Regions from separate parts of the Homo sapiens genome. Here region 1 is linked to region 2. The links come from fine-mapping of genetic effects on gene expression. A gene starts in region 2. The other region holds a variant in brackets. All regions are shown on one strand. Distances are from middle to middle. Region 1 overlaps SEC23B (SEC23 homolog B, COPII component). Region 2 holds the start of RBBP9 (RB binding protein 9, serine hydrolase).

The links. PIP is the estimated chance that this variant, and not a neighbour inherited with it, causes the effect. A credible set is the group of variants that fine-mapping cannot tell apart.
Region 1: its variant is the best candidate, but not a certain one, in a credible set for the expression of RBBP9 in fibroblasts (GTEx, PIP 0.78).

Annotation. Positions count from the first base shown.
Region 1 is chr20:18,529,496-18,545,992 of GRCh38, forward strand. It overlaps SEC23B (SEC23 homolog B, COPII component), which reads left to right. Exons shown (of 20, transcript NM_006363.6): 10 at 1,185-1,308; 11 at 3,169-3,249; 12 at 6,158-6,247; 13 at 12,801-12,907; 14 at 13,524-13,677; 15 at 16,461-16,497. Among named protein-coding and RNA genes, the nearest start is that of SMIM26, 30 kb to the right of the region's middle. The variant C/G (reference allele first, on the strand shown) is at 9,601.
Region 2 is chr20:18,488,875-18,505,371 of GRCh38, forward strand. It overlaps RBBP9 (RB binding protein 9, serine hydrolase), which reads right to left and starts at 8,351. Exons shown (of 5, transcript NM_006606.3): 1 at 8,195-8,351; 2 at 6,964-7,006; 3 at 5,084-5,189; 4 at 1,521-1,606; 5 at 1-1,116. The coding sequence starts at 8,293. The coding sequence ends at 890. It also overlaps the pseudogene RPS19P1. RefSeq lists enhancers at 7,904-7,953, 8,124-8,283, 8,136-8,700, 8,304-8,353, 8,454-8,513.

The sequences.
Region 1 (16,497 bases), 41 kb after region 2:
GGTAGGCAGTCCGGGGCTGGTATGTTGCTTTCGTCATCATTACGGGCTGAGGCTCCTACTAAGCTGCTCTACCACCATTCATATGCCATCTGTGGCTCAAGACAGTTGCTGGAGCTCTAGCCATTTACAGCAGCAGGAAGGAGGAAAGGTCAGAGAAGGATTGCTCTTCCTGGAGGAACACACTCCACATATAAAGGACACAGCAATAGTCAGAACGCACATGCCAACAGAGGCACATGGCCATAGGCAAGGCAGGCTGGAAAATGTCATTGTTCCAGGAAACTAAGGAAGAGGTAGATATTTGGTGCCAAAGAGCTGACAGACGGTTCAGGCACTCTGAGATGGCCGGACCAGATGATCTTTCTTGTGTTCTTCAAGATTCTGAGATCTTGTTTTATGAATGACGTTTGGAGGCATAACTTGCGTCAAGCTGTGCTTTTCTGTCCAAATGCATGAAATGCTGACATTTTGCACAATGTTTTCCTCTAACTTCAGTAAGGGATTAATATTAATACTCATGAGTTGGAAAACATAATTCTTGTAAAGTCAAGAATTCAGTATTTTGAGGCAGTAAATTAACCTGAAAAGGATTTCCCACAGGCCTGGGTATTTTCCCATACCAAAGAACTGTGAGAGGAATTAGAGCTGTTCTTAAGGCTTCTGTTTAATGCTTTAGAAGTAGTTTCTTTGCCAAGTATGAATTTAACATGCTGTTTTTATTTTTTTAATTTATTTTATTATTTATTTACTTATTTATTAATTTTTTTTTTGTTTGAGAAACAGTCTTGCTCTGTCGCCCAGGCTGGAGTGCAGTGGTCCGATCTTGGTTCGCTGCAACCTCTGCCTCCTGGGTTCAAGTGATTCTCCTGCCTCAGCCTCCTGAGTAGCTGGGATTGTGGCTACTAATCTTTGTGTTTTTAGCAGAGATGGGGTTTCACGATGTTGGCTAGGCTGGTCTTGAACTCCTGACCGCAAGTGATCCGCCCTCCTTGGCCTCCCAAAGTGCTGGGATTACAGGCGTGAGCCACTGTGCCTGGCCTGTTTTTTTATATTTAAATTAATCAGTGGCTCTTTTGGGGACCTGGTTTCTTTTTTTCTTTAAATTATTTTTGTAAATACTGAGGGAGCATCTGAATGGCTTTCAATCTTCCTAATATTCACTTGATTTTTTTCTTCTTACCTAGAGGCTACATGGTAATGGGAGATTCTTTCAACACTTCTCTCTTCAAGCAGACATTCCAAAGAATCTTTACTAAAGATTTTAATGGAGATTTCCGAATGGCATTTGGTGCTACTTTGGACGTAAAGGTACGGTAAACTTTTTTTTTTTTTTATGTGGACTCACTGTACTGCCCAGGCTGGTCTCAAACTCCTGGTCTCAGGCAATTTTCCCGCCTCAGCGTCCTAAAGTGCTGGGATTATGAGGCATGAGCCACTGTACCTGGCCATACTTTTAAAACTTCAATGAAATTATAGTGTTCTTACTTTTTCAATCAATATCCAGACTTCTGGCAACCTCCACCTGCTGGACATGGGCATGTAAAAGCCAATTAAAAGGATCTCAACCAAATGGCTATTAAAAGCATGTTATTCACTTTATCCCTTTGCTTCTTGAGGATGACCTATATATTTATTTATGTTCTAAGTAACAAGCTGCCTGGTTCACCCTCAGGCTCTGCTCCACCCTGCTTCAAGGCAGTAGGAGATAGAAGAGGAAGTAGGGTGGGTGTTATGAGCAGCACTGTGGCCTGAGGACAGGGGCAGCCACACGGTGGTCTGCATCCACCCAGCCATCAGCATGGCTCACTGCATTGCACAGAGACGTGGTTATGTTTAATGTCTTCCTGAAGAATAGCCAAAGTACTCTAAAATAGCACTGGGCCAGGCATGGTGGCTCATGCTTGTAATCCCAGCACTTTGGCAGGCCGAGGTGGGCGGATCACCTGAGGTTGGGAGTTCGAGACCAGCCTGACCAACAGGGAGAAACCCCATCTCTCCTAAAAATACAAAACTAGCCGGGCGTGGTGGCACATGCCTGTAGCCCCAGCTACTTGGGAGGCTGAGGCAGGAGAATGGCTTGTACGTAGGAGGCGGAGGTTGCGGTGAGCCAAAATCCTGCCATTGCACTCCAGCTGTGGCAACGAGTGAAACTGTCTCAAAAAAAAAAAAAAAAAAAGACAGCATTTTGAGATTTTTTTTTTCCCATGTAGGGACTCATGGCCCTGATACAGCTGATTCTAAGTCATTGAGAAAGCATTAAAAGAGGGTGTTAGGCCAGGCACGGTGGCTCATGTCTGTAATCCCAGCACTTTGGGAGGCCAAGGTGGGGTGATTGCATGAGCTTTGGAATTACAGACCAGCCTGGGCAACATAGCAAGACCCTGTGTCTACAAATGATTTAAAAAAAAAAAAATTAACCTCGTGTGGTGGTGCACACCTGTGGTTCCAGCTACTCAGGAGGCTGAGGCGGGAAAATCACATGTGCCCAGGAGTTTGAGGCTGCAGTGAGCTATGATCATGCCACTGCACTCAGCCTGGGCAACAGAGTTGCCAGTTGGCGGGGCAGGTCAGGGGCCGTCATTAGAAGATACGATTGGAATTATTACTTGGAGAATTAGAGATAATTATTAAATCATCTAGGTTAGACTTTAAACCATAATCTTAAATGCTTGAGGGTTTTCTTTTAAAGATGGACTTTTGAAATGAATTCACATTTTAAAAATCTAAGTATGTTGGCCTTGTCGTTATATTGGAGTTCATGAATTAAGTATTTTTAAAGCAACACAAAACAGTATGTTCTCTGATTAGGTATATGCAAATAATTATGGATATACATGAATGTGAATATATTCATACAAGGGATTGGAAAAGAATGTAGTATTGTTAGAATTGTTATCTACATGTACAGTAATTTCCAAGTTTAAAAAGTAAGTTGTGAGAGTTGAAAATGCTCATGTTTCAAGTGTTTCTAAGGGTGGATTTTATTAAAGTTCTAATCACAGTGGCTGAGGAAAAGTTTGTAGGACTAAGCAGTTATGATCCCTGTGGAGTTTTCTCTTGGCAGAATAGTAGTGTTATATTTTCCCTCTAAGCTTTCATTGTGGCCATGATGACAGCAGGGTGGATTGAAGTGATCTTTAACTTTACACTGTCACATATTTGTTATAGACCTCTCGGGAACTGAAGATTGCAGGAGCCATTGGTCCATGCGTATCTCTGAATGTGAAAGGACCGTGTGTGTCAGAAAATGTAAGGAAAACAACTCCATCACCCTCACCTCCTGCCCCGGATTTAACCCGTCAGAAGTGTCAGAGCATGATGATCTCACATGTGTCACCTGTTGGATGTGTCTGCAGTGACAGGAGAAGGGCTAACCCTCACTGATGACTATACTCGGAGAGGTGGTGTTATTCCATCTGTTCATCCAAAGGGTTAGAGAGAAGGAAACTGAGGCCCAGAAAGGTTCAGTATCTTGCTCAGGGTCAGAACTGACATGAAGGAGTTAGAGCCCAGGTGCCCCTGACTCCACCACCCATGGTCGTTGTGCCAAAGCCACGGCATGCTGTTCAGCACAAGGCAAACATTCAGCACAGTCCTTCCAGAGTAAGCCTATTGCTCATTGCCCTTAGAGGTGATACGTTTGTCTCACTCAGCTAATAACAAGCCTTTTACAACAGAGACCACCATGAGTTGGTGTGGAAGTGGGTGACACTGCTGTGTGTGCAGACATCTGTTTTCTCTAGTAATAGTTTTTGAGAACAATTTAGTTATCATTTGAGATGAGCGGCTTTGCTTATTGTCCACTTCCTCTGATTATACTTTACTTGCTAGGAGGCAAACCATTCGGTTTGGCAAGGCCTCTCTAAGGTGGTCCTGGGCTGGGGTTACACAGTCATGTTCTTCCCTCATTGTCACCATCAATGGGAGGGTAGACCATAGAGCCAGATGTGGATCCAAGGTGCAGGTTTACACCCCGCACCTGGCCCGAGCAAAGGACTTATTTGCTCTGTGATTCAGTATCCTTATCTGGCAAATGGGGATAATAACAGTGCCCACTCTACAGCATTGTTAGGAGGTTTAAATGAGTTGGTTCAGGTGAAGCAGTTAGTGCCTGGCACACTGGAAGTGTGGGTCTTCTTTCATGTTGTCAGCAACAAACGTTCTTGGGTGACCACATAAATTAAACTTTTGTTGAGCTTGGCAGAGGCAAGGTGATTTGAGAGCACATTCCTGTAGCCTTCTGAGTGAGGCAGATTGCTGCCCTAAAGCCCATCTGATGAGTCATTCATTACCCCCAGAGTACTAAGGGGCTTGTACCCCTATTTCCTGGCAAGGCTTTGGAAGGCTGCCTTGTTATAAAATATTTTTCATGGACTTAAAATCTGCCTGCTGAAGGCTTCTTGAAGTAGTTTAAGAAGGTATTTTTATGAATTAGTACAAACTAATTAATATTTCTAGTAGAATTCAGCCATGAAAGTTTTGTTTGGGGAATGAGGATGCAAAGAATAGGAAAATACAATTTTCAGACATACTGAGTGATGAATTTCTATACCTACCATTTAGTCATTGATTGTTAACATTTTGCCATAATTGCTCTGTTGTCTTGTTTGCCACATTTGCTTTATCTGATTTTCATTTATTTGCCACATTTGATTTATCAACTTTTTTTTTGCCGACCTTTGAAAATAATTTGCAGATATCATGACAGTCCTTAAGCACGTCAGTATGCATCTTCTAAAAATAACGATGTTCTCCTACCACGATGTCATTATCAAACTTAAGAAAATAATAATTTCCTAATATCTAGTTCATATTTTTTTCCTAATTTCCCCCCAAATGCCCTTTGTAGCTGTTTTTACCCCAACTGGCATTGCATTTGATATTACAGCCTTTGTAAAGTGAGAGTCTGGGTTAAAGGTGTGTTTACATTCAGGCAAAGCCTTTTTGCCAAGCATTGTTCCTGGGCAGTGTGTACTTTATGCTTGTGTCACATCCAGAGGCACTATGTCTGCTGTCCCGTGTTACATGTGCTGAGTTAGATCGCTTGGTGATGGTGGTAACTGCCCCACTGCCTTTCTACTGTAAGGGAACACTTCCCCCTTTGCCATTAGCAGGCAATCTTTTGAATGAGAGTGTGTAGCACAATATGAAACTCTTGTTTGCCAACAGCCTAATGGTTTTTAGCATCCATTGATCTTCATGCAAATCAGTTTATTTCTTTGGGGATTATAAAATGGTCATTTCCTAATTGTCTTTATCGTTTCTCCAATAAAGGCATCTAAAGAGCAAATGTTTAAGTAAGGAATTTGTGTATCAGTGAGAAAATGATATTTTGGAGCTCTAGAGGAGCCGTCCTGGGTCTGGTGCTTAGAATGGGGTTAGCAAGGCAAGAAGGGGAGGCATGAATGCTCCTTTGACTTCTTTGCCTTTTTCCTGAGCACAGCTCTTCACCTTCCAGCAGATAATAAACACCTGCTTCCTTTAGAAAAGGCCACTACAAGGAAGGTGAACCCCCGTGAATCCATCTATCTTATTATCTAGCTTAGGGAGTACTGACAGAACAGAGTGCACCCTCTCCGCTCTCCACCTTAGAGCTGCTGTGTGATTTCACCTTAAGGGTCTTTCTTAAGAGTCTGACTTGATTGATTCTTTGTGGATTTCAGCGTTATATACCATGTAGAGACACCCCCTGACACACCCACCCCCCCCCACACACACGTAGTATATGTGTAAACCCGGAACGATGGGTCACACCTGTAATCCCAACACTTTGGGAGGCTGAGGCGGGAGGATTGCTTGAACCCAGGAGGTCGAGGCTGCAGTGAGCTGTGATTGTGTCACGGCACTCCAGCCTGGGCAACAGAGTGAGAGACCATCTCAAAATAAATAAACATAAATAATATATATGTATAGTATATATGATGTAATAAAAATTGGTCAGAATGTTAATATAAAAAGCTTAATTTTAAAGTGTAAATGTAAATGTTAAGCCTTCATCTGTTCTCTTTTCAGGAGAAGGTTTTATTTCAACTTAAATGTTCTCCTAAAAGAAGATACTCTAAGTAGCCTGCCCTACTCAGTCAGTACTTTTCATTAGCAATTAACCACAGGGATGGTTTTCTGGTTTTGTTTTTCAAATTCCTCTTCCCACCCCCAGGAGCTTGGTGTTGGTGGCACGAGTCAGTGGAAAATCTGTGGCCTAGATCCTACATCTACACTTGGCATCTATTTTGAAGTTGTCAATCAGGTGAGTTGGATTTCTTCACATGTCTTCATGTCTTAGTGTCCTGTTTTGTGATTTATCTCAAACCAGTGGTCTCTGGTTACTTTCTTCACAAACCAATATTCCTTGGGTATTGTATTAGGCCTGATGATAGTCTGGCATGACCTTTTCTTATTTATTCCTTCAAGGGTTTAGTCGGAGTCAGGCAACAAATTACTTTTGTCCTTTTATTGTTGAACTGATAAGGTCATTAGAAGTGTAATAGATTTTACCAGTCATCATAATGTTGGTGAATTTTTTAGTGCATCGGTTCTTTCCCTAATATTTTATTATGAAAAATTCCAAACATACAGAAAAATTGAAAGAATTGTACGGTGAACACGTACTACCTAGGTGAACCCATCAACTTGATTCTGTAATTAACATTTTACTCTACTGGCATACCTTGGAAATACTGTGGGTTCAGTTCCAGACTACCACAATAAAGTGAATATTGCAATAAAGCAAGTCACATGAATATTTTGGTTTCCTATTGCATATAAAAGTTATGTTTGCACTATAGTATGTTAAGTGTTAAATAGCATTATGTCTTTGAAAACATTGTTCATTCTTGGATTAAAAAAATACTTTACAGTTGACCCTTGAGTAGTGTTGGGGTGCTGACACTGCATAGTTAAAAATCCACATATAACGGCCGGGTGCTGTGGCTCACGCCTGTAATCCCAGCACTTTGGGAGGCCGAGGCGGGCGGATCATGAGGTCAGGAGATCGAGACCATCCTGGCTAATATGGTGAAACCCTGTCTCTACTAAAAATACAAAAATTTAGCCAGGTGTGTTGGTGGGTGCCTGTAGTCCCAGCTACTTGGGAGGCTGAGGCAGGAGAATGGCGTGAACCCAGGAGGCAGAGCTTGCAGTGAGCCAAGATCGTGCCACTGCACTCCAGCCTGGGCAACAGAGCGAGACTCCATCTCAAAAAAAAAAAAAAATCCACATATAACTTTAACTCCCCCAAAACTTAACTACTAGTAGTCCACTGTTGACTGGGAACCTGACCGATAACAGTTGATTAACACATATTTTGTAAGTAATATATATTATGTCCTGTATTCTTACAATAAAGTAAGCTAGAGAAAAGAGAATGTTATTAAGAAAATCATAAGGGAAGGAAAGTGTATTTACTATTTGTTAAGTGGAAATGAACATCACAAAGTCTTCATACTCTCATCTTCATGTTCAGTAGGCTGAGGAGGAGGAGGAAGAGGAGGGTTTGGTCTTGCAGTCTTGGGTGGCAGAGGCAGAAGAAAATCCACATATAAGTGGACCTGTACAGTTCAAACCTGTGTTACTCATCATTAAAAAGTCAGGAAACAACAGGTGCTGGAGAGGATGTGGAGAAATAGGAACACTTTTACACTGTTGGTGGACTGTAAACTAGTTCAATCCTTGTGGAAGTCAGTGTGGCGATTCCTCAGGGATCTAGAACTAGAAATACCATTTGACCCAGCCATCCCATTACTGGGTATATACCCAAAGGACTATAAATCATGCTGCTATAAAGACACATGCACACGTATGTTTATTGTGGCTCTATTCACAATAGTAAAGACTTGGAACCAACCCAAATGTCCAACAATGATAGACTGGATTAAGAAAATGTGGCACATATACACCATGGAATACTATGCAGCCATAAAAAACGATGAGTTCATGTCCTTTGTAGGGACATGGATGAAATTGGAAATCATCATTCTCAGTAAACTATCGCAAGGACAAAAAAACACCGCATGTTCTCACTCATAGGTGGGAATTGGACATTGAGAACACATGGACACAGGAAGGGGAACATCACACTCTGGGGACTGTTGTGGGGTGGGGGAAGGGGGGAGGAATAACATTAGGAGATATAACTAATGCTAAATGATGAGTTAATGGGTACAGCACACCAGCATGGCACATGTATACATATGTAACTAACCTGCACATTGTGCACATGTACCCTAAAACTTAAAGTATAATAATAATAAAAAATAAATAAATAAATAAAAAAACCTGTGTTGCTCAAGGGTCAACTATATTGCTCAAAAATGTTAATGCTCATCTGATCCTTTAGTGAGTCATACTCTTTTGCTGGTGGAAGGTCTTACATTGATGTTGTTGGCTGCTGACTGATCAGGTTAGTAGTTGCTGAAGGCTGAGTGGCTGTGGCAGTTTCTTCTCTTTTTGTTTTTTTTTTAATTAAGACAAAGTCTTGTTCTATCACCCAGGCACGATCTATCACCCAGGCACGGTCTTGGCTCACTGCAACCTCCACCTCACAGGTTCAAGCCATTCTCCCACCCCAGCCTCCCGAGTAGCTAGGCTTACAGGTGCCAGCCACCATGTCTGGCTAGTTTTTGTATTTTTAGCAGAGACAAGGTTTTGCCACAATGGCCAGGCTGGTCTTGAACTGACCTCAAGTGATCTGCCTGCCTCAGCTCCCAAAGTGTTGGAATTACAGGTGTGAGCTACCACGCCCCACCTGGGAATTTCTTTTTTTTTTTTTTTTTTGAGACGGGGTCTCGCTCTGTACCCCAGGCTGGAGTGCAGTGGCATGATCTTGGCTCACTGCAAGCTTCGCCTCCTGGGTTCACGCCATTCTCCTGCCTCAGCCTCCCGAGTAGCTGGGACTACAGGCACCCGCCACCACGCCCAGCTAATTTTTTTTTTGTATTTTTAGTAGAGACGGGGTTTCACCCTGTTAGCCAGGATGGTCTCGATCTCCTGACCTCGTGATCCGCACGTCTCTGCCTTCCAAAGTGCTGGGATTACAGGCGTGAGCCACCATGCCTGGCCGGAATTTCTTGAAATAAGGCAACAATGAAATTTGCTGCATCAGTCGACTCTTCCTTCCAGGAAAGATTTCTCTGTAGCATGCAGTGTTGTTTGATAGCTTTTTACCCACAGTAGAACTTCTTTAAAAAATGGAATCAATTCTCTTAAACTTTGCTGCTGCTTTATCAACTAAGTTTATGTAATATTGTAAATCTTGTCATTTCAACAGTGTCACAGCATCTGCATGAGGAGTAGATTCCATCTCAACAAATGACTTTCTTTGCTTATGCATAAGAAGCAACTCCATATCCATTAAAGTTTTATCATGAAATTGTAGCAATTCAGTCCCATCTTCAGGATCCGCTTCTTCATCTTTTTAATTAAAAAAAATAGGCCGGGTGTGATGGCTCCCGCCTGTAATCCCAGCATTTTGGGAGATTGAGGCAGGTGGATCACGAGGTCAGGAGTTCGAGACCAGCCTGAACAACATGGTGAAACCCCGTCTCTACTAAAAATACAAAAAAAAAAAAAATTAGCCACGCATCGTGGTGCACACCTATAATC[C/G]CAGCTACTCAGGAGGCTGAGGCAGGAGAATTGCTTAAACCAAGTGATGGAGGTTGCAGTGAGCCGAGATTGCGCCACTGCACTCCAGCCTGGGAGACAGAGCAAGACTCCGTCTAAAAAAAAAAAAAGGCCGGGTGCGGTGGCTCACGCCTGTAATCCCAGCACTTTGGGAGGCCAGGGCAGGTGGATCACGAGGTCAAGAGATTGAGACCATCCTGGCTAACATGGTGAAACCCCATCTCTACTAAAAATACAAAAAACAAAATTAGCTGGGTGTGGTGGCGGGTGCCTATAGTCCCAGCTACTTGGGAGACTGAGGCAGGAGAATGGCATGAACCCAGGAGGCGGAGGTTGCAGTGAGCCAAGATTGCGCCACTGCACTCCAGCCTGGGCGACAGAGCAAGACTCCGTCTCAAAAAAAAAAAAAAAAAAAGAGATGGGGTCTCTCTTTGTTGCCCAGACTGGTCTCAAACTCCTGGGCTTAAGCCACCTTGGCCTCCCAAAGTGCTGGGATTACAGGCGTGAGCCACCACACCCAGCCAGGATCCACTTTTTTTTTTTTTTTTTGAGATGGAGTCTTGCTCTGTTGCTCAGGCTGGAGTGCAGTGGCACCATCTCAGCTCACTGCAACCTCTGCCTCCCGGGGTCAAGCAATTCTGCTGCCTCAGCCTCCCGAGTAGCTGGGATTACAGGTGTCTGCCACCACACCCACCTAATTTTTGTATTTTTAGTAGAGACGGGGTTTCACCGTGTTGTCCTGGCTGGTCTTGAACTCCCGACCTCAGGTGATCCGCCTGCCTTGGCCTCCAAAGTGCTGGGATTACAGGCGTAAGCCACTATGCCCAGCTGAGGATCCACTTCTAATTCTAGTTATCTTGCTCCTTCCACCACATCTTCAGTGACTTCCTCCACTGAAGTCTCAAACCCCTCAAAATTATAAGAACTGGAGTAAACTTCCAAACTCCTGTGAAAGTTGATATTTTGACCTCTTCCCATGAATGATGAGTGTTTCAATGACATGTAGAATGGTGAATCCTTTTCAGAAGATTCTTCATTTTCTTTGCCCAGATCCATCCCAGGAATCACTAGGTATGGCAGTTATAGTCTTATGAAATGTGTTTCTTAAATTTAAGACTTGAAAGTCAAAATTTCTCCTTGATTCATGGGATGCAGAACGGATGTTGTGTTAGCAGGCATGAAAACGTTTATCTCCTTTATATCTCCGTCAGAGCTCTTGAGTGACCAGGTGCATTGTCAGTGAGCAGTAATATTTTGAAAGGAGTCTTTTTTTTCCTGAGCAGCAGGTCTCAACAGTGGGCTTTAAATATTTAGTAATTGCTGTACACAGATGTGCTGTCATCCAGGCTTTGTTGTTCCTTTTGTAGAGCACAGGAAGCGTAGATTGAGCACAATTCTTAAGAGTCCTAGGATACTTGGAATGGTAAATGAGCATTGGCTTCAACTTAAAGTCACCAGATGCCCAGGTATGGTGGCTCACACCTGTAATCCCAGCACTTTGGGAGGCCAAGGTGGGTGGATTGCTTGATCTCAGGAGCTCAAGACCAGCCTGGGCAATGCTGTGAGGCCTCATCTCTACCAAAAATACAGAAATTAGCCAGATGTGGTGGTGTACGCCTGTAGTCCCAACTACCTGGGAAGCTGAGGTGGGAGAATCTCTTGAGCCTGGGAAGCCGAGGTTGCAGTGAGCTGAGATCATGCCATTCCACTCCAGCCTGGGTGACAGAGCAAGAACCTGTCTTAGAAAAACCAAATAGAGTCACCAGCTGCATTAGATCCTAACAAGAGAGTCAACCTGCCCTTTGAAGCTTTAAAGCCAGGCATTGACTTCTCTCTAGCTATGAGAATCCTAGATAGCATCTTCTTCCAACTACACTGAAAATCTGTGGTTTAGTGTAGCCACCACCTTCATCAGTGATCTTAGCTAATCTGAATAACTTGCAGCAGTTTCTACATCAGCACATGCTGCTTCACCTTGTGCCATTATGTTATGGAGATGGCTTCTTTCCCTAAACCTCAGGAACCAACCTCTGCCAGCTTCCAGCTTTCTCCTGCAGCTTCCTTACCTCTCTCCACCTTCATAAATTGAAGAGAGTTGGGACCTTGCTCTGGATTAGGCCCTGGCTTAAGGGAATGTTGTATCTGGTTTGATTTTCTATTCAGACTACTAAAACATTCTCCACATCAGCAATAAGGCTGTTTCACTTTCTTATCATTCACGTGTTCACTTTTAATTTCCTTCAAGAACTTTTTCTTTGCATTCACAGCTTGGCAGTTTTGGGGCAAAAGGCCTAGCTTTCAGCTATCTTGGCTTTCAACATACCTTCCCTACTAAGATTAATGAGTTTTAGCTTTTGATTTAAAATGAGAGATGTGTGACTCTTCCTTTCACTTGAACACTTAGAGGGCATTGTAGGGTTATTAACTGGCCTCATTTCAATATTGTTGTATCTCAGGAAATAGGGGAGGCCCAAGGAGGAGGAGAGAGATGAGGGAAAGGTCAGTCAGTGGAGCAACAGAATATACACAACATTTATCAGTTAAGTTTGCCATCTTATATCAGTGCAGTTTGTAGCACCCCAAAACAATTAAAATGGTAACATCAAAGATCACTGATCACAGATCACCATAGCAGATATATAATAATAATGAAAAAGTTGGAAATATTGTGAGAATTACTGAACTGTGACACAGAGACATGAAGTGAGCACATGATGTTAGAAAACTTGCGCCAATAGTCTTGCTTGATGTACGATTGCCACAAATCTTCAATTTGTTAAAAAATCTGCAAATAAATGAGGCATGTCTGTGTTTGTTTAATGATTAACAATCCGTCACAAACTGGATAATTCATCAGCAATAACTCATCCAGTTTGTGATTCATCAATCCATCTTCGTTTTGCTGCATTTCAAAACAAGCCTCAGTCATCCATGTATTTCATGCCTAAACACTTCAGTAGGTGTATCATTAACTTAAGTTCAGTATTGAACGTAGTTCTTCAACTTTTTTGGAGATAAGGTTATATGCAGTGAAATGTGCAAATCCTAAGTGTGCCCTTCAAAATGTGTCAAGAACCTTCCTGTCATTGCTGTGTCAGTCATTTTAGAAGAGTACAGTGGGCTCTGTGACCGTGTTTGAGTTGCGCCTATAACAGACAAGGTTATGGCCTCTCATCCTACAGCACAACACCCCGATCCCCCAAGGAGGCAGAGGAGCCATCCAGTTTGTCACGCATTATCAGCACTCCAGCACCCAGAGACGCATCCGCGTGACCACCATCGCCCGAAAGTAAGCAGCCCCAGTTTCCTTTCTGTTGAGGAACTGACTGACATTTTTCCCTTGAAGAGATACTTTAACATTTGTTAGTTTGTCTTTTTGATTCCATTGAATGGTTCTCACCAGACCTCATTAGCTTATTTGATCAGAGGAGGAGGCATTTTTGGCTAACCCAGTTGGGCCTATGAACACTTGCCTAGAGGAATCATCTTTCTGTAGGAAATATAGTTCATTAAAAGTATTAATTATTATTATTATCATCTGGAGACAGTCTCGCTCTGTTGCCCAAGCTGGAGTACAGTGGCACAATCACAGCTCACCACAGCCTCAACCTCCCATGCTCAAGTGATCCTCCCACTTCAGCCTCCCAGGTAGCTGGGACCACAGGCACCTGCCACCAAAACTAGCTAATCTTTTTACTTTTATGCAGAGAGATGGTGATCTCACATTGTTGCCCAGGCTGGTCTTGAACTTCTAGGCTCAAGCAGTCCTGCCACCTTGCCCTCCCAAAGTGTTGGGATTTCAGGAATGAGCCACTGCACCTAGCCTGTGTTTCTTTTTCTGAATGGATGTCTGGCTTTCTGATCTCTCCTAAACATAAGCATGGCACTAACTCTGGAATTGTCAGTTGGGCAGATGTACAGAGTCAGCTCAGGCACATAGAAGCAGCATTTGACCAGGAGGCTGCGGCAGTGTTGATGGCACGGCTTGGGGTGTTCCGAGCGGAGTCAGAGGAGGGGCCCGATGTGCTCCGGTGGCTGGACCGACAACTCATCCGACTGGTAAATTGGGGACAGTGGCATTAGGTTCAGTCTTGGTTTCTGCTTTACTTTCGAGAAGAAAATTGTCACTTAATTATTATTATATAGTGAATCAGCAAGAATTTATCAGTTGCCTACCTTATGCTGCACGCTGGACATTCTGTTAAAGACGTGTTAAATGTGCATTTTCCCCTCAGAGATTTACATTATAGTTGGGAAGAAACAACACGCATGGAGCATTTGGAGAGTGATACAAATCTGTGTGGGTTGAGTTGACTTAGATGAGTCATTTTGTGAATGCTCTGGTCTTGTATTTTTCTTCTAAATCTGGAAAGTGGTTTTGGAAATAGGGATCCAGCCTGGTAAGTTTAGGGAGATGCCTTTTATCAGTCTGGATTTAATGAGATGAGAGAAGTCACACTGTAATTTAAATGGGGAAAGTCTTTTATAAAGAATACAACAAGAGAGTAGAACAGTGAGGGACTGGCTAGAAGGAAGTATAGAGAAGTGGGCAGCCACTACTTGTGGGGCTGAGATAGAGCACCAAAGGAAGTGCCCTTCTCCCCAGGGCTGATCCAGACCTAGTTGGGAGGGCATGGCCATGGCTTGGTGAGTCTTTTGCAGAGAAGTTACCGTGGTGCTGTGCCAGGGGAACTTACTAGAAATTCACTTTCTAGAATTTGAAGAAAATCCACCCTCCAGGGTGCCAGGGAAAGCTGTGTATAGGAAAATGTCTCACTGGAGACATGCAGGGATGCTGCTTAGCTGCTGGCTGCCATGTTCTCCAGGAGCTCAGCACTGGGGAGCCACGGTGCAGCAGGACCTGGCACCCGGGAAGCTGCTGAATGAGCACTCGGGCGCCCAAAGCTGACGCTCACCTCCAGCACTCTCTACTGACAACGCTTGATATCGTGCCAGCTGGCAAAGGAGAGGTAGTGAAAGGGCCCATGTCCATTTCACAGCAGGCAAAGGGGGTGAGTTTGGAGCCAGCACAAGGCAATAAATCAATAATTGGCACATGATAATCTTACCTTCCTGGAGAGTCACAGCATGTGTTTGTGATCAAAGCCACCATGGAAAGGCCCAGTAGGGAAACCTGTTTCATTTTGTTCAGCCCTCTATTTGCCCTTGCCATCTCATGGAACCATTTTTCAGGAAGTGTCAACATTTCAAACATAATTTGAAAATTGCTTCTTTAGGATTTCAGAGGGAGGATAGATAAGCAGAGGGCCCAGGTGGCTAACAAAGACTTCCTGTGGAAATGAGCCTTGAGTCAGGTTTTTATTACAGAATTAATTGGAGAAGGGAAGGCAAGGCTTGCTGAGTGGAGGGCTAGCAGGAATGAGCCTGCAGGAGCTAGCTGGGTCTTTTAGCTTATGCTGAGGACTTTGGAGAAACCAGTGTCACAGGAGGCTAGGTTGTGCAGTGGGGAACAGAGTCAGGGAAGGTACACCTTGATTGGGGAGCTCCTTAACTTTAGGGAGCAAGGGAGACGTGGCTGTGATTGTTAAGCGGGGGTTTGATGTCAGCATGATGCTTGTGTTTACATTTAATATCACCATGTGAGGCACATTGCAGAGAGAAAAGGCTATTGTTGTGAATGGAGGATTTTTCAGGCTCAATGGCACTGAGACCAGCATAGTGGCAGGAGAGATGGAGGAAGCAGAAGGTTTGAAATCAGGATGTAAACTGAAAGAATTGATAAAACTTGATGAAATGATTCTGTGTAAAGTCAAAAACCAAAAAGTCAGCACTGAATGACATTTCACACATGGGTAACTGCATGAGTGGTGTTGAGGTAGAAGATGGGAAAGGAGAGCAACTTTAGGGTGGGAGAAAGTTTTTTCTCTTTTTTTAATGTAATAGTTTATTTTTGATAATTTTTGATAATTGAATGTGAACTTGCAAAAGTGTGTCTCACGAAAACTCCCATATTTGGGTGGATGTCCTGACTGGGGCTCAGGCTATAGGTCAGCACTGGACACTGGAGGGTGGATTTGGATGACACCCATCTGGCTCTAGTGTTCATTTGTACCCAAAGCAGTGAGGATGGGAGGAGGGGGCCAAGAACTAACCCCCAAGGAGTCCACAGTTAGGGGGAGGAGGAAGACAAAACCATTGAAGAAGGCAGAAAAGGGTTGGTTGGAGAGATTATGAGAAATAGGAAAGTGATGTATTAGCAGCTGAAGGAGAAAGTTTCGAGACATTTGGGCAGTCACCTGGCTCATGCTGCTAGGAAGTTCAAGAAGACGAGAACTGCGGAAGGACACCAGATTTTGTGGGAAGAAAGTAATTGTTAGAAATGGGGTTTCTTTAAATGATGAACAGTCCAATTCTTTAGTGACCAGAAATGTGTGAGCAGAAATAAAGGCGGGAAGAGAAAACATTGTGGTTCAGAAGTCTGCCATTGGGAGAAATAAATTTGAGTTTTAGTGTGAGAGAACATCAAAGCGTAACTATAATTGTTAGTTTTCATGGTGTTAGAGGGTTTTCATATGGAACAGGTGCCTGGAAGAGCTCACCTAGCTTCTCTGGTTAGGGCAGTCCTCAGGCCAGCATTGCCTGAGAGCTGATTAGAGATGCAGAATCTTCAGCTCCTCCCTAGAGTCTGCATTTTAACAAGATCCCCTGGTCATTTGCCTGCTCACTGATGCTTGAGAAGTGCTAGTCTAGGACTTATAGTAAGTGGCAGAGTTCAGACTGGATGTAGCTTAGTCCAGGAATATTTCCAGGTAATGCTAACTTAGATTTTTCTCTCTCTTTTTGTGTGTGTTTGTTTGTTTTTTGGTATTTTCTTTCCATAGTGTCAAAAGTTTGGACAGTATAACAAAGAAGACCCCA
Region 2 (16,497 bases):
TTGCAGTGTTTGTAAATTTTTTGATGTATACTGTTATTGCCAACTTACATACTCCATATGTATATGGATTGTATGTGTATGTGTGTGTGTGTGTGTGTATATATATATATATTTGCATTCCCCAAATTTAAAAACTACAATTTGGAGATTTTTTTCCACACAAAAAATCAGAAAATTGGCAACACTCTGCCCCATTTCCACATGGCAACAATTTAGACAGGCCATGAGCTCTCCACATGGCTCTGATCCCACCACTCTTGTCTCAAACAAATCTAGTCAGTTGTACGTATATTATGAATGTATATTGCTGTGCTTCTCCTTCCTGCCTGACTCCGGAAGACTCCTGTCTCAGTCTCTCTCAACATGTCTGAAGGACTTAGGGGCAAGTGTCAGAGGTGAAGGCCCTAGTCTGAGTTTAATGTCTGGGGCCAGCTTGAAACAGCAGCTAGTATTTTGAGCTCTAAGCTAACACTCTGGACTTTCAGTCATGTTTTCTTTCCCCAGTGAAATAGAAAAGTTTGATTTCAAAGAGGAAAAGTGTGCAATACCTGCAACATACATAAAACCTATTTAATTTTACTCAGGAGTGGGAATCAAGAAACCTGGGTTCTGTTTCTGACTCACTTCGGATAGAGAAGGGTAGTTAAGCTGTCCTTATGTTTCTTATCAAATGAGGAAAATACTGTGGTAGTTCATAGCAATTTGGGGAGTTTTAGAGTCTATGGAAAATGGAAGTGCTATTTGTAACTTAGATTGAATGTTGAAACTTGTGTTTGTTTTTCAGGCACTTACGGAACTTAACTGGATGTTCTATGTGTCTAGTAATCAGCTGATAGTAGATATTATTCTACTCCTATATTGGGATGCAAAATAGCAGAAATCATACAGTCTATGCTGGTACTTTCAGCAAAGACTTTACAACAGTAATCAGTTCATGAAACTCTGTGTTCTGAAAGTGGCCACAGTCAGTGAATTTGTGCAATTTGGTTTCCAACCTATCGGCCACTTCTTGTTGTTCCTTCCAGGGAAGGAACGGGTCGTCAGTAGAGCCAAACTGCACAATGTAAGGGCAGTTGGCCTTGATCTTCTCCCACTGCCAGGGGCGGGTGAAGTATCCTATGGGGAAAAAAAAATGATCTTTCAGTACCCATGGATAATCTCCCTTCTAGATATTCTAAAATACCTACTGGCGACCCACATAGAGACGCAAAGGAGCAGAGCCTCCGTGTGAGTTAGAAGCACTTCTTTTGTTTTCAAATCTGTAGGGCTTGATACCACAGTTACTCGTGAAGAGGTGGTATATGGTTCAACTAAAACCAGGCCTCTAGGGTTCAGTTCTAGACTTACAGCTTGGGAAGAAATCAAAGTGCAAACTTATATCCAAAGATAGGTGGTATATCTTTCTCATATGCTATTAGAATTTTTTAGCCTATCTGAAAGACAGCACTGTTTTTACAACCTAAACAGACAGCCCCATGTCTAGAGAAGGGCTTTGCTCAGATTTCTACCTTTGGACTTACCACTTGCACGCTCATTTTCATCCCCCAAGTCTGATGTGTACGCAGACACTAATACAATAGCATATACTCGATGTGTTTCTGCATACCTGGAGAAACAAAAATGATGTCAGCTAATATATAATGTTACCTCTGATCACCAAAAAGTCAATAAACTACTTAAAAACTCATTTGAGGTAGCCTACAGAAAGCACGTGCTACCTGCTGTTGAGGTTGATGTGAAAAATGGCAAGGAAACTGCAGAACTATAAGCCCAACCCTGGCTACTGGATGAGCTTCTACTCATTTTTCTTTTTTTTTTTTTTTGAGACAGAGTCTCACTCTGTCACCCAGGCTGGAGTGCAGTGGCACAATCTTGGCTCACTGCAACCTCCACCTCCTGGGTTCAAACAATTCTCCTGTTTTAGCCTCCTGAGTAGCTGGGATAACAGGCATGCACCACCACGCCCAGCTAATTTTGTATTTTTAGTAGAGACGGGGTTTCACCATGTTGGCCAGGCTGGTCTTGAACTCCTGACCTCAAATAATCCACTCACCCCGGCCTCCTAAAGTGCTGGGATTACAGGCGTGAGCCACCACGCCCAGCCACTACCCATTTTTCAAGGTAGTTGAAACTTGTACAAACCTTTCCCAATAAACAAAAAATGTGTAATCCATCCACGTTTAGTATGCATCAGTGTCACTTGGTTGGTGAACATGCAGATTCTCAGGCTCAGACCCAGAGTCTCTGATTCAGAAAGTTGGCATTAAGGCCTAGAATCTGCATTTTAAGGCGTGATCCCTCCTTCAACCCAGATGACTCTAATGCAAGTGGTCTGTGAACTGTATTTTAAGAAACACTGTATAATACCAGAAATGTACCTTTGTTACCACACACTCCACATTGCCTTATATTATTCATTTGTGTTGTCTTATGTACATTTCTCTCAATAAATTGTCAGCTCCTTAAAGGCAGGCATGAGTCCTATTGATCTTTGTGTTCCTGGTGCCCATTACAGTGCCTGGCAAGTAGACACCCAGCTAACTCTTAGGTTGGTACAAAAGTAATTGCAGTTTTTGCCATTAAAAGTAAGCAGGAGACAGACAAGAAATAAACAGGATGTCAGATGCAATGCATAATCCTTGACTAGATCTAGGATTGACTAGATCTAGGTGAAAAGTACTACAGATAATAAGATATAAAGAGGATAGGAGCCAGTAGAGTGAGTCTCCTTTATTGGCAAAAACCACAGTTATATTTGCAGAGAGCAGTCTCCCTCAGCAAAGACTGGGATAAGGAAAGACACATAGTAGTAATAATTTCAAGGGGCCTTTGTGCCAAGAAAGAGTTAGGGTTGGTATTTTGTTCTTGGGCCTGAACTTTTTTCCCCATTTATTTTGAAAAATATCAAACCTACAGAAACGTTGAAAGAACAAGCACCTAGGCCGGGCACGGTGGCTCACACCTGTAATCCCAGCACTTTGTGAGGCCAAGGCAGGCAGATCACCTGAGGTCAGGAGTTCAAGACCAGCCTGACCAATATGGTGAAGCCCCGTCTCTACTAAAAATACAAAAATTAGCCAGGTGTGGTGGCAGGCGCCTGTAGTCTCAGCTACTCGGGAGGCTAAGACAGGAGAATTGCTTGAACCTGGGAGGCAGAGGTTGCAGTGAGCCGATATTGTGCCACTGCACTCCAGCCCGGGCAACAGAGGGAGGCTCTGTCTCAAAAAAAAAAAAAAAAAAAAAAAGAACAAGCACCTAGATTCATTAATTTTGTCACATTTCACCCGTACTTTAGCATGTATCTCCTGAGAAAGCCACTCCCTTAACCATGGTACCACTATTACACCCAATAAATTTCACATTGATACAGCAATATTATCTGTATTCATTTTTCCCCAACTGTACCAAAAATGTCCTTTAAAACATTCTGCAATCCTAGATCTAGTCAAGGATTATGCATTGCATTTTATTTTCATGGCTCTTCAGTCACTTTAAAATTTTTTTGTTTTAAATGACATTAACATTGTTTAAGAGTGTAGGCCAGTTGTCTTGTACATTATCCTCTAAATAGGATTGTCTGTTTCCTCCTAACTAGACTGAGGTAAACATTTCTGGCAAGGATACTGCATAGGTGATGCTGTGTCCTTCCCATGCCATTACATCAGGGGACACATGATGCCAGTCTATTATTGGTGAGATTAAGTTTGATCATTTGCTTAAAGTGATATCCACCTGATTTCTCCATTGGAAAGGCACGATTTCCCTTTCATGATTAGAGTCATCTGTAGGGTAGTCCTCTATGATTTTGTCAATAGGAAATTCTACAACCTTAACCCAATCGTTTTGGCATCCATTTTTCTCCTTGCCTCCCTTAACTTTAGAAGTCAATTCTTAGAAGGTTGCTAAGAATCCTGCAGTGAGTTCAAGGATCTTTAAAAGCAGGCACACCTTTACTAATCAATGGCTTGAGAAAAATGCAGTTGGCCTTGAGTTGGAACAGAATTCAATAATACAAGGAGCTCTTCCTTTTCCAGACAACCCCTGGCAGCATATAACATTCTTACACTGGGAGTGTACCATAATTTTGTGGTTCCATCCTGAAATACTCTTGTAACTTTAATCAGTGTGGCTGAAAGGTTATGAAATTTGGCAAGATTCCCTGACATGCAATTCATGTGACAGCCTAAGTGACTGCTTGGGACAAATAAAAACTATTATCCTTTGTCATTTTGCCTAGCAAATATGAAAGAAACTCAACCCTTATAGGCTAAACTTAGCTTATTCAGCCAGCTAAGTCCCTACCCACTAGGCCTTATAAGGCTAAAAGGGGAGATGTAATATTCTAATGAGAGCAGTAGGGATGTGCATACGAATCCTAAGGACTGGGGATTCGCAGGTGAGTAACACTGCAGACACAATCTACCATATGCCAGGCTCTCTTCTAGGCAATGGGGTTTCAGTGCCAGAGTGAACAAAGCCCTGCCTTCATGGAGTCTACATTCTATTGGCAGGAGACAGACAAGAAATAAACAGGATGTCAGATGGTAAAAAGTGCTGCAGATAATAAGATATAAAAGAGATAGGAGCCAGTAGAGTGAGGAAGCCATTTCATATGGAGTGATTAGAGAAGGCTTCACCAAAAGGGGACATTTGAGCAGACACTTCAAGGGGAATAGAAAGCCATGCAGTGTCTAGGGCCAGAGTATCCCAGGTAGAAGGATGAGAGCAGGCTAAGATGTGCATGTACTTGGCATGTTCCAGGAACTGCAATGAGGTCAGTAAACCTGGCTGGGAGGAGAGAAGGAGAGTCTGTAGAGACAGAATCAGAGCTGACTGATGGGAAGCTACTGGGGTTTGCAGCCACTTATGCTTTAAAAGGATCACTGCATCTCAATAAGAGCAGATTTTTTGTTTTCTTTCAATCCACTAGCAAAACCAGGAAGGAATTAGGACAGATTATGTTACCACTTTAGAGGTCAGCACTGTTTCCTCTGCAACAGAAATTTAAGATATACGCAAGGTATTTCTCAAGCAAGCATGACTGGAGCCCACAAAGGGGATAGCAGTTTAACAAAGATCGCACCTCATGGCCGCGATGGCCCCAGAACTGTGGCCAATGATGATAGTCTTCTCATCACAGTGCAGCTCTGTCTCCATGAAGGGCAGCCAGATGCTCTCTCGTGCTGTAACTTAAGGTTCAGGGTAAAGAAAAAGTCTGTCATTTGATAGTGGCAGTCTGAATCCAACGCTGCCCCACCTTTCAAACAGGCAACTATTCAGCAGTTCACAACTTTTAAAACTGCAGGACCACAGCAGGAGACCAGACTGTATTAACAAAACCAAAGATTTATGTATTACTACTTGAAAGATCCAAGTCCACAGTTTTGGTAACTAGTTTTTCTTTTCTCTTTTTTTTTTTTTTTTTTGGTTTACCATGTTCTTGTAAGAAAATACTAAGGAAATAATAAAATATAACTCTGAAATTTTAATGTAAACTTTCAAACTTGAAAAAAAAAGCTAATGGTCAGGTGCAGTGGTTCACACCTATAATCCCAACACTTTGGGAGGCTGAGGTGGACAGATCATTTGAGGTCAGGAGTTCGAGACCAGCCTGCCCAAATGCTGAAACCCCGTCTCTGCTAAAAATACAAAAAAAATTAGCCAGGCGTGATGGCGCATGCCTGTAATCCCAGCTACTTGGGAGGCTGACACAGGAGAATCACTTGAACCCAGGAGGCAGAGGTTGCAGTGAGCCAACATCACGCCACAGCACTCTGGCCTGGGCAACAGAGCGAGACTCCATCTCAAAAAAAAAAGCAAAAAAACTCTTGCAACATTCTAAAATTCACATTTATTCATTCTTTCCAAAAAGGGGATTCCTGAGACAAGTCATAGGCATACCCAGAACAAAAGTAGCAATATGACATTTTTAAACATTAGGACCTCAAATAGATGCTGTAAAGTTTTATACCTATGCCTCAAGTATAGTACCCACAAATTCTGCCTGAAAATATTTGTAGACATATAGAAGGGAAAAATCAAGTTGGTGCAAAGTTGAAAATTAAATTTTACCATGCCCAGGTGCTTTCCTAATCCTTACTAGAATTTTCTATGGCTTACCCCATCCGGGAGGTGAGGGGCGCCTCTGCCCGGCCGCCCCTACTGGGAAGTGAGGAGCCCCTCTGTCCGGCCACCACCCCGTCTGGGAGGTGTACCCAACAGCTCATTGAGAACGGGCCATGATGACAATGGCAGTTTTGTGGAATAGAAAGGGGGGAAAGGTGGGGAAAAGATTGAGAAATCGGATGGTTGCCGTGTCTGTGTAGAAAGAGGTAGACATGGGAGACTTTTCATTTTGTTCTGTACTAAGAAAAATTCTTCTGCCTTGGGATCCTGTTGATCTGTGACCTTACCCCCAACCCTGTGCTCTCTGAAACATGTGCTGTGTCCACTCAGGGTTAAATGGATTAAGGGCGGTGCAAGATGTGCTTTGTTAAACAGATGCTTGAAGGCAGCATGCTCGTTAAGAGTCATCACCACTCCCTAATCTCAAGTACCCAGGGACGCAAACACTGCGGAAGGCCGCAGGGTCCTCTGCCTAGGAAAACCAGAGACCGTTGTTCACTTGTTTATCTGCTGACCTTCCCTCCACTATTGTCCTGTGACCCTGCCAAATCCCCCTCTGCGAGAAACACCCAAGAATGATCAATAAATAAATAAATAAATAAATAAATAAATAAATAAATAAAAATGACAAATTCACAGAATTGAAAAAAAAAAAAAAAAAAGAATTTTCTATGGCTTTTGGTTCACACCCTCCTCCCCAAGCTGCTTGCCTTATTCTTTCTTAGGTATATAGGCATCTTTGGTTCCTCCACTATGATATTCTTGTTCTCTACCACAAAAATGGTAATATCAAAACCCAACAAGATGAGGCTATTTAAAAACAAGTTTAAAACTTACTTGGGTCGGGCATGTTTTTAGCCAAACACTGGAAACCAGGTATCTATGATATGAGGGGGGAGAAAAAGCTATAATAAAGAGCTTAATTACAACTAATACTTTGCTAATAAGAAATGAGGCACCTGATATGATCGTTACCAATTCAGTATTAACTTGTGTTATGAAATGAAGTAGGTTAAGTGACCATCTTTTCGCATGAACTCCATCTGTAGTTCTGTATCTAGGCAGCTCTGCTGATCTCTATAGAGAGACCTATATCTGCATTTGTACACCCATATTTGCCTCTACAGGCCTGCATCTATAGAGAGGCATGAACAAATGTGTTCTAGACAGACTGACCTGGAGCCAAATAGACTGTGTTCCAGGGAGTAGGTAAAACGTGGCACAGGAACGTGATACAGAAATTTGGAGACAGCATACTCTCAGAAGCTCCAGCCCTGACCTTTGGGGTTGTAACTCTGACCAGGGTTTTCAGCCACAGCGCTGCAATCTATTCTGGAGACCCGCTCTAGAGGACAGCAACCCAGGGAGCCGACTTACCGCCTGGTTACAGAAGAGGGTTAAAAAATAAAAATCAAACGGCACAGGTCAGCCTACAGTAAGATGCCACTTTTATAAAGCTCACCAAGAAGCCAAATAGAACAGTCTGTTGTTTAAAAGGTATATTCATAGGTTGAAAAGTACTTCAATTTTAAAAAGAGAAGCAGATGAAAAAATTCAGGATGGCACGGGACTGAGATGGGTAGACATAAGGGTCGTTTGGAAGATGATGTATAGGCAATGTCCCAGGTTTTAGTTTGGTAATTCATTACATTATGCCTCATAATGTAGACGCATGTTACGTATATCCTTTGTATATATTAAGTATAGCATATTTAATTTTTTAAAAGCTGAAGCGGGAAGCAGTGAACATGTAAAATTATCTGGGAAGTCCCAAATCTGAACCAGCAGCAGATACGGGGGGCGGGGCTCAGGGGCTCAGCCTCGGTAGTTCAAAGGGGTTCCTTTAACTCTAAAGGCTGAGCCCTCAGAGAAGTCTTCCAGGCAGTTTTACCAGTCAAAATTCGACCACTAGCTCAGACTTTAAGAGAAGGCAGCGGGGGAGAGGCAGGAAAACACACAGGGCTTTGCTAGAGGGGATTAGACGCCTATTCAAACTTCAGCCCTCAGTCCTCTCCCGCCGTCCCTCCCTCCAGGCTGACTTCACGGAGCAGCGGCGTTGGGCGCTTACCTTCTCCAGCTCCTTTTTCACCCAGCCATACCAGCCGTGGGTGGTCACATCCCCGCCTCCGTTCCCGGGAACAATCACTGCCTTGCTAGGAGAAGCCATGAGTGCAGCGAGGCCAGAGTTCCCCAGCGCGGGTCCAGCGGAGCTGAGCCCAGCCTGCTCCCGCAGGGAGCCTGCGCCGCGGCATCCTGGGAGTTGTAGTTGCGGGGACCTGGGAGGCCGGGCTCTTTCCTCCTTGGCCTGCCTTCCGCTGGCTGCGTGGGGCAGCCAAGAACAAAGCCTGCGAGCTTCCATCAATTGTAAAGCAAAGCACCCTTTACTTGCCTCTTACTAGTGCTCTCATGTTTTTCCCTTATTTAAGACAGGCTATGACACGGTTGGGGTGTGTTATTTCTTTGCTAGATTTACTGATATTTCTATAGGAAAGTTTGTTTTTGGTTTCAAACATGCAGAAAACCCATTTATAACCTGGGAACGCCTGAAATCCATATTATTTTTCCTTCTGAGTTTAAAACAGTTTTTAGTAGTCAGTATCAGCCCTGGTTGTTGTTTTTCATTGCTTTGAATGAAATTTCCTTGCATAAAGCTACTAACCCAAGTAAAACAAGCAAAAATTTAATTAAATACCAAGAAAATACTTCGTCAGATTTTCATATTAAACCAGCTGATACTGAAATTGTTTAAAATAGTTTATAACCAATGCTTAGTCCCATATTCCTGGGAAGACAAACAAAGCTTCATGTACATTTGGTCACCGGGTGGGCCATTTAAACATTTTGTAAGGGGATTTCATTCAATTGTTATTTGAATTCCAATTTGTCATTCTGGTTGTATAAAAGCTTTCCCATGCAAGAGGGCTGATGTTATAACAGTAGATTATTATGCTACAGTGTATTTTCCCCCGGTAAAGAAAGCTTTTTATGGTTTGAATTTTCTGGAAACATTGGAGAAGACTGTCCTTGTCATCCACACTACAACAAAACTTCAGGACCTTGGGCTTTGGGTTCATGGTCTCGCAAATGAGAACGGTCCCTCCACACTTTTGGAACAGTGCACCCATTGGAACTTTTGAGGTAAAGCTACCCTGGGAAATTTCTCCCAAGAAGAAAATGGCATCCTTGATGTGAACAGCTTTTCCCAAGTTCACAGATTAAGACTTCTACTACCATGAAACTCTTATCTTTCAATATTTTTTGTCTTCCTTATGCCTCTACAAACAATAGAAGTGGAAAAGGGGTCTGTTATGTGCACTTATGGGGTATACTTTTATTTGTGAAGGAGTTTGCAGCCAGCCTTATACATGGATAAACTTAGACTTTGATAGATAAAAGATGAAGGCCCGAAGTAGGTAAGAAACTTTAATGGTACATGCATTGCTTCATAATCAGTCAAAAACAAAACATTGGTTCACTCCTCTAACCCACATCATGGGTTAAAGAAAACATTGCCAGTAGGCCTTCACTCTTCTAGAAAGGCATCATTTGTTAGGTCCTTTTACCATGGTTTGAAGTAAAAGAAGCAATGATTAGAAATGTATCCCTCATTGGCTGGGCGCGGTGGCTTACACCTGTAATCCCAGCACTTTAGGAGTCCGAGGCAGGCAGATCACCTGAGGTCAGGAGTTCAAGATCAGCCTGGCCAACATGGCAAAACCCCATCTCTACTAAAAATACAAAAATTAGCTAGGCGTGGTGGCAGGTGCCTGTAATCGCAGCTACTCAGGAAGCTGAGGCAAGAGAATTGCTTGAACCCGGAAGGCAGAGGTTGCAGTGAACCAAGACTGTGCCACTGCACTCCAACCTGGGCGACAGAGCAAGACTCCGTCTAAAAAAAAAAAAAAAGGAAAAAAGAAAAAAATAAATTCAGTGGTAGAGGATTAACGAAGAAATTGCTTAGTCAAGTGAGTAAACCCTTTATCTAGCTCATTCTTTGATCTATTTGATTTTAGGAGGTTTGGTTTATCGGGGCCTTGGGTTTAGGAGCATACCCCGAACTCTTGGTGTTATCCTCCCAATATTTATAATAATAGTCTCCCTGGTGTGCTGTATTCTCTCAAAGGTTTTAAATGTTTGCACGCGGTCATCTCTAGAACGTCAGATGTTCTCTCTTCAACTGGAATGACAAAAGCTGAAAGAAATGTGCAACCATGAGAACACCAAAACCTATAAATGATGTGCTGAGACCGAAACCCAAAATGATGGTAACTGAGAGTGGCGCTAAGGCCCTAAGTTTTGGTCACACTCTCACCTAAGTGAGAACCTGACCAAAAAGGGGGAATTTTTTGCACAAAATTTTGCGAGGCCATTGTTTTGGACTAAGCTCATGCATTAGGCCCCAACAAACCAAACCAAACCAAAATGGAGTTGCTTGTGCTAAGACTTCAAGGAAACATAGATTCTAGAACAGACTAGGTTTTGTTTTTTTTTCTGCAAATCTCTATAACAAACATCTCTGACAGCGTAGGTATCCACCCCATGAAGTTCCCATTAAATCTTTTTTTTTTTTTTTTTTGAGACGGAGTCTCGCTGTCGCCCAGGCTGGAGTGCAGTGGCGCAATCTCGGCTCACTGCAGGCTCCGCCCCCTGGGGTTCACGCCATTCTCCTGCCTCAGCCTCCGGAGTAGCTGGGACTACAGGCGCCCGCCACCTCGCCCGGCTAATTTTTTGTATTTTTAGTAGAGACAGGGTTTCACCGTGTTAGCCAGGATGGTCTCGATCTCCTGACCTCGTGATCCGCCCGCCTCGGCCTCCCAAAGTGCTGGGATTACAGGCGTGAGCCACCGCGCCCGGCCATCCCATTAAATCTTTTAACCAAATTAATTTCCTCTCGTCTGGAGACCATCAAGCTTCAGATGATCATGCAACAAAGGTTCCAGCCAGTTCCAGGTGAAGACACCACCCCTAGCCATCAAGAAACTACCCTGCCTCCACTAGATAGAGCAGGGCGAGTTCCATGATCACCAGTAGGTAGGGACTACACCCCAAGCCAGCATGAAGCAGTTACAGAAAAAAGACCATCAGTCCCTCTGCCTCCCATAAAGATTTATGGGGATCACATCTCTCAGCGGGCAGATGAGCCAGGAAAATAGGGTCTGGAGGCAGGGAACAGAAGGCCGATTCACACTTCGGTAATGACAGGAAATATCCTCTTCACAGGGTGTAGGCCAACTAAATGACTTTGTAGCTTTACTTCATCCTCTTCATTTACATAGGGTGTACCCCAAGTAGAGGGTATTTAAATGCTCAAAAATTCTATAATGGGGATTTTGAGGCCTTATGCTCAGGCCTGCTCCCATAATGTAGAGTGTACTTTCATTTTCAATGAAACCCTTCTTTCCTTCCTTTCTTTGTGCGTTTCGTCTAATTGTTTGTTCAAGACGCTAAGAAACTGGACACCCTCCACCATTAACAAAGGGACATGAAACTTTTGGGGGTGATATATATGTTTATTATCTCGATTGTGGTGATGGGTGTCAAAACTTAATAAATTGTACATTTTAAATATGTGCAGCTTAAGGTACATCAATTATACCTCAATATAACTCTTTCAAATTTAAAAATAGTAATCCCAGCATTTTGGGAGGCTAAAGCGGGAGGATTGCTTGAGCCCAGGAGTTTGAGACTAGCCTGGGCAACATGGCAAGACTCCATGTCTTCAAAAATTTTTTAAATTAGCCAGGCACGGTGGTGTACACCTGTAGTCCCAGCTACTCAGCAGGCTAAGGTAGAATGATCACTTGAGCATGGGAGACTGCAGTGAGCTATGATCATGCCACTGCACTCTAGCGTGGGTGACACAGTGAGACTCTGTCTCAAAAAAAAAAAAAGGAATAAAATGTCAACATAAAACAAGCAGAGACATTCCTATAACCAACTGGTTGTTTGCTTAGTAGTTTTTAGTTCAAGAAGCAGTGATACTCCCTAAACAGGAACTGGGGGCTGAAAAAGGATCTAGCAATCTAGCTTCCCTTAAGATTTAGTTAGCTCATTCTTCTAGAAGGAGAAAAAAGGCAGTGACATTAACTCTCATCTTAGGTTGTTTATGCCAATAATAATTGAGAAGATTATAATTACATATATCCGTTTTGTTTTCTACTTTTTATCTCTTGTACAAACAATTTCTGAGCTTATCATTATCACAGAAGAAACAGTTTTAGTTTCAAAGCTAAAAGCCAACATTTTTGTCCATTTTATTTTTTGAGATGAAGTCTCGCTCAGTCACCCAGGCTGGAGTGCAGTGGCGCGATCTCGGCTCACCGCAAGCTCTGCCTCCCGGGTTCACGCCATTCTCCTGCCTCAGCCTCCCGAGTAGCTGGGACTACAGGCGCCCACCACCATGCCCAGCTAAATTTTTTTTTGTATTTTTTTTTTTAGTAGAGACAGAGTTTCACCATGTTAGCCTGGATGGTCTCGATCTCCTGACCTCGTGATCCACCCGTCTCAGCCTCCCAAAGTGCTGGGATTACAGGCATGAGCCACTGCTCCCGGCCATTTTTGTGAATTTTTAAAAATCTGAAAATGCACCTTTATATTTGGTACCTCATTTGCTAATATTGAAGAAGTTGTTCTCAAGAACTTGCTGAGACAGTTTGACTCTTTCTAAAGGGATCACCCACCCTCCACTGAGGCCCTCCTTCTAAAGGGATCACCCACCCTCCACTGAGGCCCTCCTTCTAAAGGGATCACCCACCCTCCACTGAGGCCCTCCTTCTAAAGGGATCTTCCACCCTCCACTGAGGCCCTCCTTCTAAAGGGATCTTCCACCCTCCACTGAGGCCCTCCTTCTAAAGGGATCACCCTCCCTCCACTGAGGCCCTCCTGCTGAATAATCTTCCTCTGCCTGGATTTTTCTTTTCAGGTCAGGATGTTTTCTGTGGGAAGTTTGTCTCTAAGTCTTCAAACTCACGGTCTAAATCTATTCTCCTCTCTTCTGTGGTTACTTTTCCTTTCTGCCACTGCTTTTGTTTACTTGTTTGTTTGAATTTTGGTTTTGCCACCTTGAGGAGAAAGGAGGTCAATGGAAGCCTTCTTCAAAGTCTTGAAGCACACATGGCAGCTCCTGGGAAAGGAAGGGAGGTGAAGAGGCTGTTCTTGGCAGAGAGGAAGGCATGCAAAAGGGCACTGAAACAACAAACAGCACATGTGGGCTGGGAAGGACAGTGGTTCATTACTGGAGGATTGAGATCTGTAGATCATTGAGGCCCGTGAGTAGCACAGGGGCCCCTACTGTATCCTGTGAATGATGGGAAAATTATGTAAGGTTTTAAGCAAGAGAATAGTAGGGTCAGATATGTGATTTAGAGAAGTCTATCCAGCAACCAATGTGATTTTTAGATCGGGCAAAATTTGGGCAAAACAATCATTCGAGAGACTGTTGCAGGAATCCAATCAGAGGATGAGTGCCTGAACTAAGCAAGTAGATGAAATTGAGAAATAGAGTAACAAATTAACAAGACCAAGTGATTCAGTGTCACCTTCAAGGTGGAGGTGTTAGAAATAAGGAGGAGCCAAGGATAACTTCCTACTTTATAGACTCAGTAACTGGGAGAAGAATGGCATCTTCAAGTGAAGATGTACAAGAGGCAGAAGGTTCACTGGGAGCCAGGGGGATGATGGATTCAGTTTAGGACATATTAAGATCGAGATGTGCAAGCATACCCAGTGATATCTGCAGGACATTTCTCCAGACGGCCTTGGACTGGCCCAGTTCTCCCCACTTTCTTGCTCATAGTTCTGAAGAATAATTCCGATGTGCTGGGAATATAGTATTCTGAGATAAGGAGGAAATAGCCAGAACAGCCCAGGCTGTGTTCTAGCCTCACTAAAAACAAGATGTCCTTCAATGCTTTTACGGCTTTTCCCAGCTAGAATACAAGTGGGCATGCACAGACGAGACTCGATCTGCACCGTGTGGCTTTCCTGAGTCTTGAGAGACCAGCTCATGTTGAATCCTAGGTTTCTGCTGTCCCTTGCTGCTTCTCTGTGAGTAATAAATCCACTTCATGTAACTTGTGTATGTGAGTGTTCTGGCTCACCAGACTCGGGCAGGTAGTAGAAGTACAGCCCAAGATGCAGTGAACTGAATTGGTAACCAGTGCACAGTAAACACACTTTGAAGAACCCAGCAGGTTGCTGAATATTTGAATCGGATGTTAGGTAGAAAAGTCTGACCCAGAAATACAGAATTTAGGCTGAGCGTGGTGGCTCACACCTGTAATCCCAGCACTTTGGGAGGCCGAGGTGGGCAGATCACCTGAGGTCAGGAGTTCGACACCGGCCTGGCCAACATGGCGAAACCCCTACTAAAAACACAAAAATTAGCCAGGTGTGGTGGCCTGCGCCTGTAATCCCAGCCACTCACGAGACTGAGGCAGGAGAATCGCTTGAACCCAGGGGCAGAGGTTGCAGTGAGCCAAGATCGTGCCACTGCACTCCAGCTTGGGCAACAGAGAGAGACTCCATCTCAAAATAATAATAATAAAATAAAATAAATAAAAGAATTTAGACTCAGGCTACAGATGATGATAATATGTCAGAAAAATTATGAAAGATTTTGAAATAGTCAAAAGAGGTTACTGGGTGAACTTTCTGTGGAGTGCTGTGCATTTTTAAAAGACTCTCTGGGGGCCGGGAGTGGTGGCTCATGCCTGTAATCCCAGCACTTTGGGAGGCCGAGGCGGGCAGATCATGAGGTCAAGAGATCGAGACCATTCTGGGCAACATGGTGAAACCCTGTCTCTACTAAAATTACAAAAATTAGCTAGGCATGGTCGTGTGCACCTATAGTCCCAGCTACTCGGGAGGCTGAGGCAGGAGAATCGCTTGAAGCCGGGATGTGGAGGTTGCAGTGAACTGAGATCGCGCCACTGCACTCCAGCCTGGCGACAGAGCGAGACTTCGTTTCAAAAACAAAAAATCCCCTGGGTCATTTGCCGTAGGAGGGATGTACCTCTGCCTTTGAGTATGCTATTTTACAACTCTGTAGAGATAGAAATTAACTTATAGAAGATAGTAATGCAAATGTTCCCTGCCCACAACAATGAAAACTATTCCTGTCCACAGCAATGCAAATCAATTTTGTGTGATAGAGAATATGTCACTATAAATCAAATTCTCCTTAGAACCAGTCTGAACATCCCTCCTGGTCGTAGGGATTAATTAAAATCAATGAATGAGTTAAGTAAGATCTTTGGCACATGTTCATTTTATATTTGCATGAAGGCCATAATTTTACCTTTTGAAACACTTTAACAGTTTTGAAGCTTTCACCAACATCCCAATGGATTCACCTGACAGAACCAGGTAAACCACATTACTGAAGAACACCCCATGGGGCTAAGCCCAAGCACATTTTTTCCTGGCTCCGGGAGTGAATACCAAGTAGCAATAGTACTACAGCGTTGCTGACTTTCTCCCTAGGTTTCTTTCTCCTCCTTACTGATTTTGGGTTTTGTTTCTGATTCGCCCACAGCTGGCGGATTTTTCCCCATGAATGGCGACACCAATTAGGAACTCGCGGGAAACCCCGTTGCTCCCTTTCCCCTGGCTGGCAGCGCGGAAGCCGCACGATGCCTGGAGTTCCTGTAAACCACGTGAACCAGCGGGACTTCGTCAGAGCTCTGGCAGCCTTTCTCAAAAAGTCCGGGAAGCTGAAAGTCCCCGAATGGGTGGACACCGTCAAGCTGGCCAAGCACAAAGAGCTTCCTCCCTACGTTGAGAACTGGTTCTACACACGAGCCGGTTCCACAGCGCGGCACCTGTACCTCCAGGGTGGCGCTGGGGTTGGCTCCATGACCAAGATCTATGGGGACGTCAGAGAAACGGCGTCATGCCCAGCCACTTCGGCCGAGGCTTCAAGAGTGTCCTCCGCCGGGTCCTCCAAGCCCTGGAGGGGCTGAAAATGGTGGAAAAGGACCAAGATGGGGGCCGCAAACTGACACCTCAGGGACAGAGAGATCTGGGCAGAATTGCCGGACAGGTGGCAGCTGCCAACAAGAAGCATTGGAACAAACCATGCTGGGTTAATACATTGCCTCATTCAGAAAAAAAAAAAAAAATTAGGAACTAGGTTTTACATTCTGAACATTTGGTGATCTCTTTAAGTGAATTAATAGTTTTTAGAGATCTATTCTCTTTTGGATAAGAGATGATGAAAAATCTGGTTTGTTAGTCTTTTTGTTTGTTTGCCTTTTTGTCTACTTATGAGTTCAAATCAGTTAAGACTTCCATGCCCATTGGGAAGGAGAACAGCTTTTTGTTATCTAGTCCACTGAATTTTTATGTTTCTGAATTTACTTTCGACCTGTG